Linked DNA regions of Homo sapiens: region 1 is linked to region 2. The links come from fine-mapping of genetic effects on gene expression. A gene starts in region 2. The other region holds a variant in brackets. All regions are shown on one strand. Distances are between the middles of the regions. Region 1 overlaps LINC02811 (long intergenic non-protein coding RNA 2811). Region 2 holds the start of OXCT2 (3-oxoacid CoA-transferase 2).

What was found. PIP is the estimated chance that this variant, and not a neighbour inherited with it, causes the effect.
Region 1: its variant is the best candidate, but not a certain one, in a credible set for the expression of OXCT2 in whole blood (TOPMed, PIP 0.51).

Annotation. Positions count from the first base shown.
Region 1 is chr1:39,807,364-39,810,267 of GRCh38, forward strand. It overlaps LINC02811 (long intergenic non-protein coding RNA 2811), which reads right to left. Exons shown (of 4, transcript NR_186710.1): 3 at 1,691-2,008. It overlaps LOC130932201 (a long non-coding RNA gene), which reads left to right. Exons shown (of 4, transcript NR_186719.1): 3 at 639-835; 4 at 1,699-2,072. Among named protein-coding and RNA genes, the nearest start is that of LINC02811, 8.6 kb to the right of the region's middle. The variant T/C (reference allele first, on the strand shown) is at 1,459.
Region 2 is chr1:39,769,734-39,772,637 of GRCh38, forward strand. It overlaps OXCT2 (3-oxoacid CoA-transferase 2), which reads right to left and starts at 1,615. Exons shown (of 1, transcript NM_022120.2): 1 at 1-1,615. The coding sequence starts at 1,522. All of the region lies in intron 3 of BMP8B (bone morphogenetic protein 8b), which reads right to left. RefSeq lists enhancers at 988-1,661, 1,662-2,334 and a silencer at 1,548-1,647.

The DNA.
Region 1 (2,904 bases), 38 kb after region 2:
CTAGGAGTTCAAGACCAACCTGGGAGACATGGTAAAACCTTGTCTCTACAAAGAATACAGAAAAATTAGCTGGACGTGGTGGTGCACACCTGTAGTCCCAGCTACTTGGGAGGCTGAGATGGGAGGATCGCTTGAGCCCAGGAAGCAGAGGTTGCAGTAAGCCGAGATCACGCCACTGCACTCAAGCCTGGGTGACAGAGTGAGTTCCTGTCTCAAAAAAACCTAAAAAGCCTCTCCCTCTCCCCTCTCCCCTCTGCCCTCTCCCCTCTCCCTCGTCCCTCGTCTCCCTCGTCTCCCTCATCTCCCTCGTCTCCCTCTCCCTCTCCCTCTCCCTCTCCCCGGTCTCCCTCTGATGCCACCAAAGTTGTGAAAGCCGAGGCTGGACTGTACTGCCGCCATCTCGGCTCACTGCAACCTCCCTGCCTGATTCTCCTGCCTCAGCCTGCAGAGTGCCTGGGATTGCAGGCGCGCGCCGCCACACCTGACTGGTTCTTGCATTTTTTGGTGGAGACGGGGTTTCACCGTGTTGGCCGGGCTGGTCTCCAGCTCCTGACCGCGAGTGATCTGCCTGCCTCGGCCTCCCGAGGGGCCGGGATTGCAGACGGAGTCTCGCTCACTCAGTGCTCCATGTTGCCCAGGCTGGAGTGCAGTGGCGTGATCTCGGCTAGCTACAACCTCCACCTCCCAGCCGCCTGCCTTGGCCTCCCAAAGTGCCGAGATTGCAGCCTCTGCCTGGCCGCCACCCCGTCTGGGAAGTGAGGAGCGCCTCTGCCCGGCCGTGACCCCGTCTGGGAACTGAGGAGTGTCTCTGCCCGACCGCCACCCCATCTGGGAGGTGAGGAGCGTCTCTGCCCGGCCGCCCCGTCTGAGAAGTGAGGAGCCCCTCCACCCGGCAGCCGCCCTGTCTGGGAAGTGAGGAGCCCCTCCGCCCGGCAGCCACCCCGTCTGCCAAGTGAGGAGCCCCTCCGCCCGGCAGCTGCCCCGTCCAGGAGGTGGGGGGCACCTACGCCCGGCCACTGCCCCGTCTGGGAGGTGGGGGGCGCCTCTGCCCGGCCGCCACCCCGTCTGGGAGGTGTACCCAACAGCTCATTGAGAACGGGCCATGATGATGATGACGGTTTTGTCGAATAGAAAAGGGGGAAATGTGGGGAAAAGAAAGAGAGATCAGATTGTTACTGTGTCTGTGTAGAAAGAAGTAGATATTGGAGACTCCATTTTGTTCTGTACTAAGAAAAATTCTTCTGCCTTGGGATGCTGTTAATCTATAACCTTACCCCCAACCCCGTGCTCTCTGAAACATGTGCTGTGTCCACTCAGGGTTAAATGGATTAAGGGCGGTGCAAGATGTGCTTTGTTAAACAGATGCTTGAAGGCAGCATGCTCCTTAAGAGTCATCACCACTCCCTAATCTCAAGTACCCAGGGACACAAACACTGCGGAAGGCCGCAGGGTCCTCTG[T/C]CTAGGAAAACCAGAGACCCTTGTTCACATGTTTATCTGCTGACCTTCCCTCCACTATTGTCCTATGACCCTGCCAAATCCCCCTCTGCGAGTAACACCCAAGAATGATCAATAAATACCAAAAAAATAAAAATAAAAATAAAAAATAAAATAAATAAATAAATAAAAATTTAAAAAAACTAAAAAGCAAGCAACAACAACAACAAATTACACTAATTGTCCCCCAAATTACCTTTACAGGCCCAGCATCCAATTCAGTCGCCTTCAAGGAGTCTCTTCAGTCTAATTTATTCTAGAACAATTCTTCAGGCTTCCCTTCTCTGGCCAAGATTTTTGAAAAATACAGGTCAATGACTTTGTAGGTTGTCTTCAGTTTGGATTTGTCTGCTGTGTCCTCATGATTTATGCATCTCTGGCAGGAATACCACAGAAACGATGCGACATTCTTCTCAGTGTACCATATTAGGAGTCACACAATGTCAACTTGTCCCATTACTGCTGATGTTAATGTTTACCACTTGGCTAAGATGATGTCTGCCAGGTTTCTCCACTGGAAAGTTAACAGTATTTAGTACGTGTTAAGTGATGAGTAATGAATAAATATTTCATAGGGAGATGTTCTGAGAGTATAAAAATATCCTGTTCCATATCAAAGTTGCTTCACCCAGTTTCAACCCAAATCAATTACTACTACGATGGTTGCCAAGTGAAGATTTTCCCTTTTTTTATTTTTATTTTTATTTTTTTAAGACAGAGTCTCACTCTGTTGCCCAGGCTGGAGTGCAGTAGCACAATCTCGGCTCACTGCAACCTCTGCCTCCTGGGTTCAAGCAATCTTCCTGCCTCAGCCTCCGCAGTAGCTGGGATTACATACACCCACCACCACAGCCAGCTAATTTTTGTATTTTTACTAGAGATGGGGTTTCACCATATTGGTCAGGCTGGTCTCGAACTCCTGACCTCAGGTGACCCACCCACCTCGGCCTCCAAAAGTGCTGGGATTACAGGTGTGAACCACTGCTCTAGGCCAAGGTTTTTCTAATTTCAACATTTTTTTACATTTATTAGTTAATATTCTTATTCTATGACGAAACAGAGCTTTCCATTCTCCCCAATGTATTTATTCATTTATCTATTTATATCATATAAACACGTGGATTCCTATTTTTCTCAATGAACTACAATCCATTACTTGATACCTATTTTGAAAGTCATACTATCTTAGATTTGGCCAGTGGAAGATGCTTCAAGTTGGCAGCTGCGCCCTTTAGTGTGTCTTCATAATTCTTTGAGCATTTATTTATTTCCTGGCACAGCAAGGTATTCTAGGTTCATCTTGTACATTTCTTGCTCCAGCCCACAAGGAGCCCTAGTCCAGCACTGAGAATGCCATCTATAATGGGCGCCAAAGATGTTCAGTGCTGCCAGAGTGCCACTGATTTCAGG
Region 2 (2,904 bases):
TCGGGGACACAGCAAAGGCACACCCCGTGCTCTTTTTGATGTCGTCCACCGTCAGGCCCTCCCAGAGCTCCCTCAGCGTCAGCTCTTTCTTCCTGTGCACGTCAAACACGGCCTTCTCGGTGATGATGCGGTCCACGCACCGCTTCCCGGTCAGCGGCATGGTGCATTTCTCCATGATCTTGGGGGTGTTGTCCTTTGTGCAGTGCTGCATGGTGACCACCACTCTGGTCTTCTGACTGGACACCAAGTCCATGGCACCGCCCATGCCTTTCACCTTCTTGCCAGGGATCATCCAGTTCGCCAGGTCGCCGTATTTGGAAACCTGCATGGCTCCAAGCATGGTTAGTTGGATGTGTCCCCCTCGGATCATGGCGAAGGAGTCGTCGCTGGCGAAGAAGCAGCCCCCGGGAAGCACCGTGACCGTCTGCTTGCCTGCATTGATGAGGTCGGCATCCACCTCATCTTCCGTGGGAAACGGGCCCAGGCCCAGGATCCCGTTCTCACTGTGAAGATGGACAGTCATGCTGGGACTGATGAAGTTGCTGGCCAGCAGGGGGATGCCTATGCCCAGATTGGCGTACATGCCGTCCTCAAATTCCAGAGCTGCGCGTCTGATGATGCGCGTCCTGGCGTCCTCTTCCTTTCCAGCGTCTCCATCTTCCTCTTTCAGGATCGTTAAGCGCTCAATTCGTTTCTCGTATTTCTGCCCCTTTATCACGCGATCTACATAAATGTTAGGAACGTGGATGTCTTCTGGGGGGAAAGCCCCCACCTCCACGATCTCTTCCACCTCCACCGCCGTGACGTCTGCAGCTTTGCACATGGGCACGTTGAAATTGCGGGCGCTTCTCCTGAAGACCACGTTTCCTGCCCGGTCGGCCTTCCACCCTTTCACCAGGGCGAAGTCTGCCCGGATGGCGCGCTCCAAAAGGAAGTGGTCGCCGTTGAACTCCCTCACCTCTCGGGGCTGGCTCATGAGCGCCAGGTGGCCGTCCGGGGTGTAGCGGATGGGGGCGCCCCCTTCCTGGACCAGGGTCCCGTAGCCCGTGGGGGTGTAGAAGGCGGGCACCCCGGCGCCCCCCGCGCGGATGCGCTCGGCCAGGGTGCCCTGGGGCGTGAGCTCCAGCTCCAGCTCTCCTGCCAGGTACTGGCTCTCGCACAGGGTGTTCTCGCCCACGTAGGAACAGACGATGCGACGGACCTGCCTGGCGGCCAGCAGGAGGCCCAGGCCGAAGTCCTCCACGCCCACGTTGCTGCTGACCACCTGCAGGTCTTTCACGCGGGTCCTGAGCAGCGCGGCGATCAGGTTCTCGGGGATCCCGCAGAGCCCGAAGCCCCCGATCATGACGGTCGCCCCGTCAGAGATGTCCTTCACCATCTCCACCGGGTCCGCGTAGAACTTGGCACGGAGCCGGGGACTGGTGGCAAAGCAGCGGGCGCAGCCCTGGGACAGCGCGAGCCCTGAGCCGCCGGCGGGGACCCCGCGCCCGAGCACTGACGCCAGGAGCCGCAGCGCCGCCATAGTCGGCCCGGGTCGGAGGCCAGGACAGGTGGTGTGAGCCCTGCGTGCGCCTCGGGCCGCGCGTCACAGAGCAGGGCGGGCGCCCGCGCCCTGACGCACTCCCTCCCAGCAGGTCTCCCCGGCCAGGCGCAGGCTCTAGGCTAGGCCCGCGACCCGCAACAGGGAGGGGGCCGGCTCCGCCCTGGGCTGGGGGCCCCCGAGTCAGTCCTCCGTGTCCAGCGCACAGGCCCGGGCGCAGGACAGAGCTGAGGTCAGGCTCCGCGAGAAGGGCACAGGCTAGGTCCCCTCCTGCCCCAGTGGAGCCTCAGACACAAACTCCAACCACCCCGCCCAAGCTTCCCCCCAGCTTCCCCAGCTCATTAAAGACACCAAGTGTCCAATGAGCAGGCGCCGCTGGGTGACACCGACGCTCATGAACACCTTCACTGGGCATCACTCTGTGCCAAGCACCCTCCTTTAATCCTGTGACAACCCGGAGAGTGAGTGCCTGCCCCACTACAGCCTCCCAGAGCTCAGGTTCACCCCTCACTGCGACAGTGGGGACAGTATCCCTCACCTCCATCAGGAAGGGTCCCTGCTCTGAAGAGGCCCCCCGTCTTGTCCTCTGCATCCCCCCGCCCTCTCCACCTCCCCCACTCCAGCTCCCTGCTCCAACTTGTGCGGAATTTTGCAGTTTTCTTCCCTCTGCACAGAATCACTGCATCACCACAGCAGCGTGCAGGCGTCTCCTCACCTGGAAAGGACCTGCCTTGTCCCGGGTTCTCTCCAGCCCCAGCCCATGTCTCTGCTCCCCTTCCCCAGCAAAGGTTCTGGAAAGAGCTGTCTCCTGCCTCCACTGCCTGTCTCCCTCCACCTCCTCAGTCAGACCCACACTCCACGGATATTTAGGTCATCAACAACCTCTGTGATGGCAAAACCCTTGGTCACTTCTCTGTTCTTGCCTTCAGTGCCCACAGCAGGACACAAATGACAAACCCTTGCTTCTGGAAACACTTTACTCTGGCGTCTAGATCACCTCATCCTCCAGGTGTCCTGCTCCCTCCCTGGCTGGTCTCTGTGGGCTCTCTGTGGCCCCTCCTTGTGAGGTCTCTGGATGTTGGAGGTCCCAGGGCTCTGGGCCAGGCCCTCTTTCTTCTCCATCACTACCCTCCTTCCCTAGATGACCTGGTCCCATCCCATGCTTTAAATCCACTTACATGCCAGCACCTCCCTCGCCTGGGTCTTCACACTCACCGGTCCCTGTAATGGCATTTCCATGAGGACCAGTGATCTCAGTAACATCCCAGGGGGGTCAGTAATATTCCAGCCAAAAGAGAACCCTTGGCCACCCACCTCAAACCTGCCCTTCATCTATCTTTTCCCCAAAAAGAAAAATCTATTGA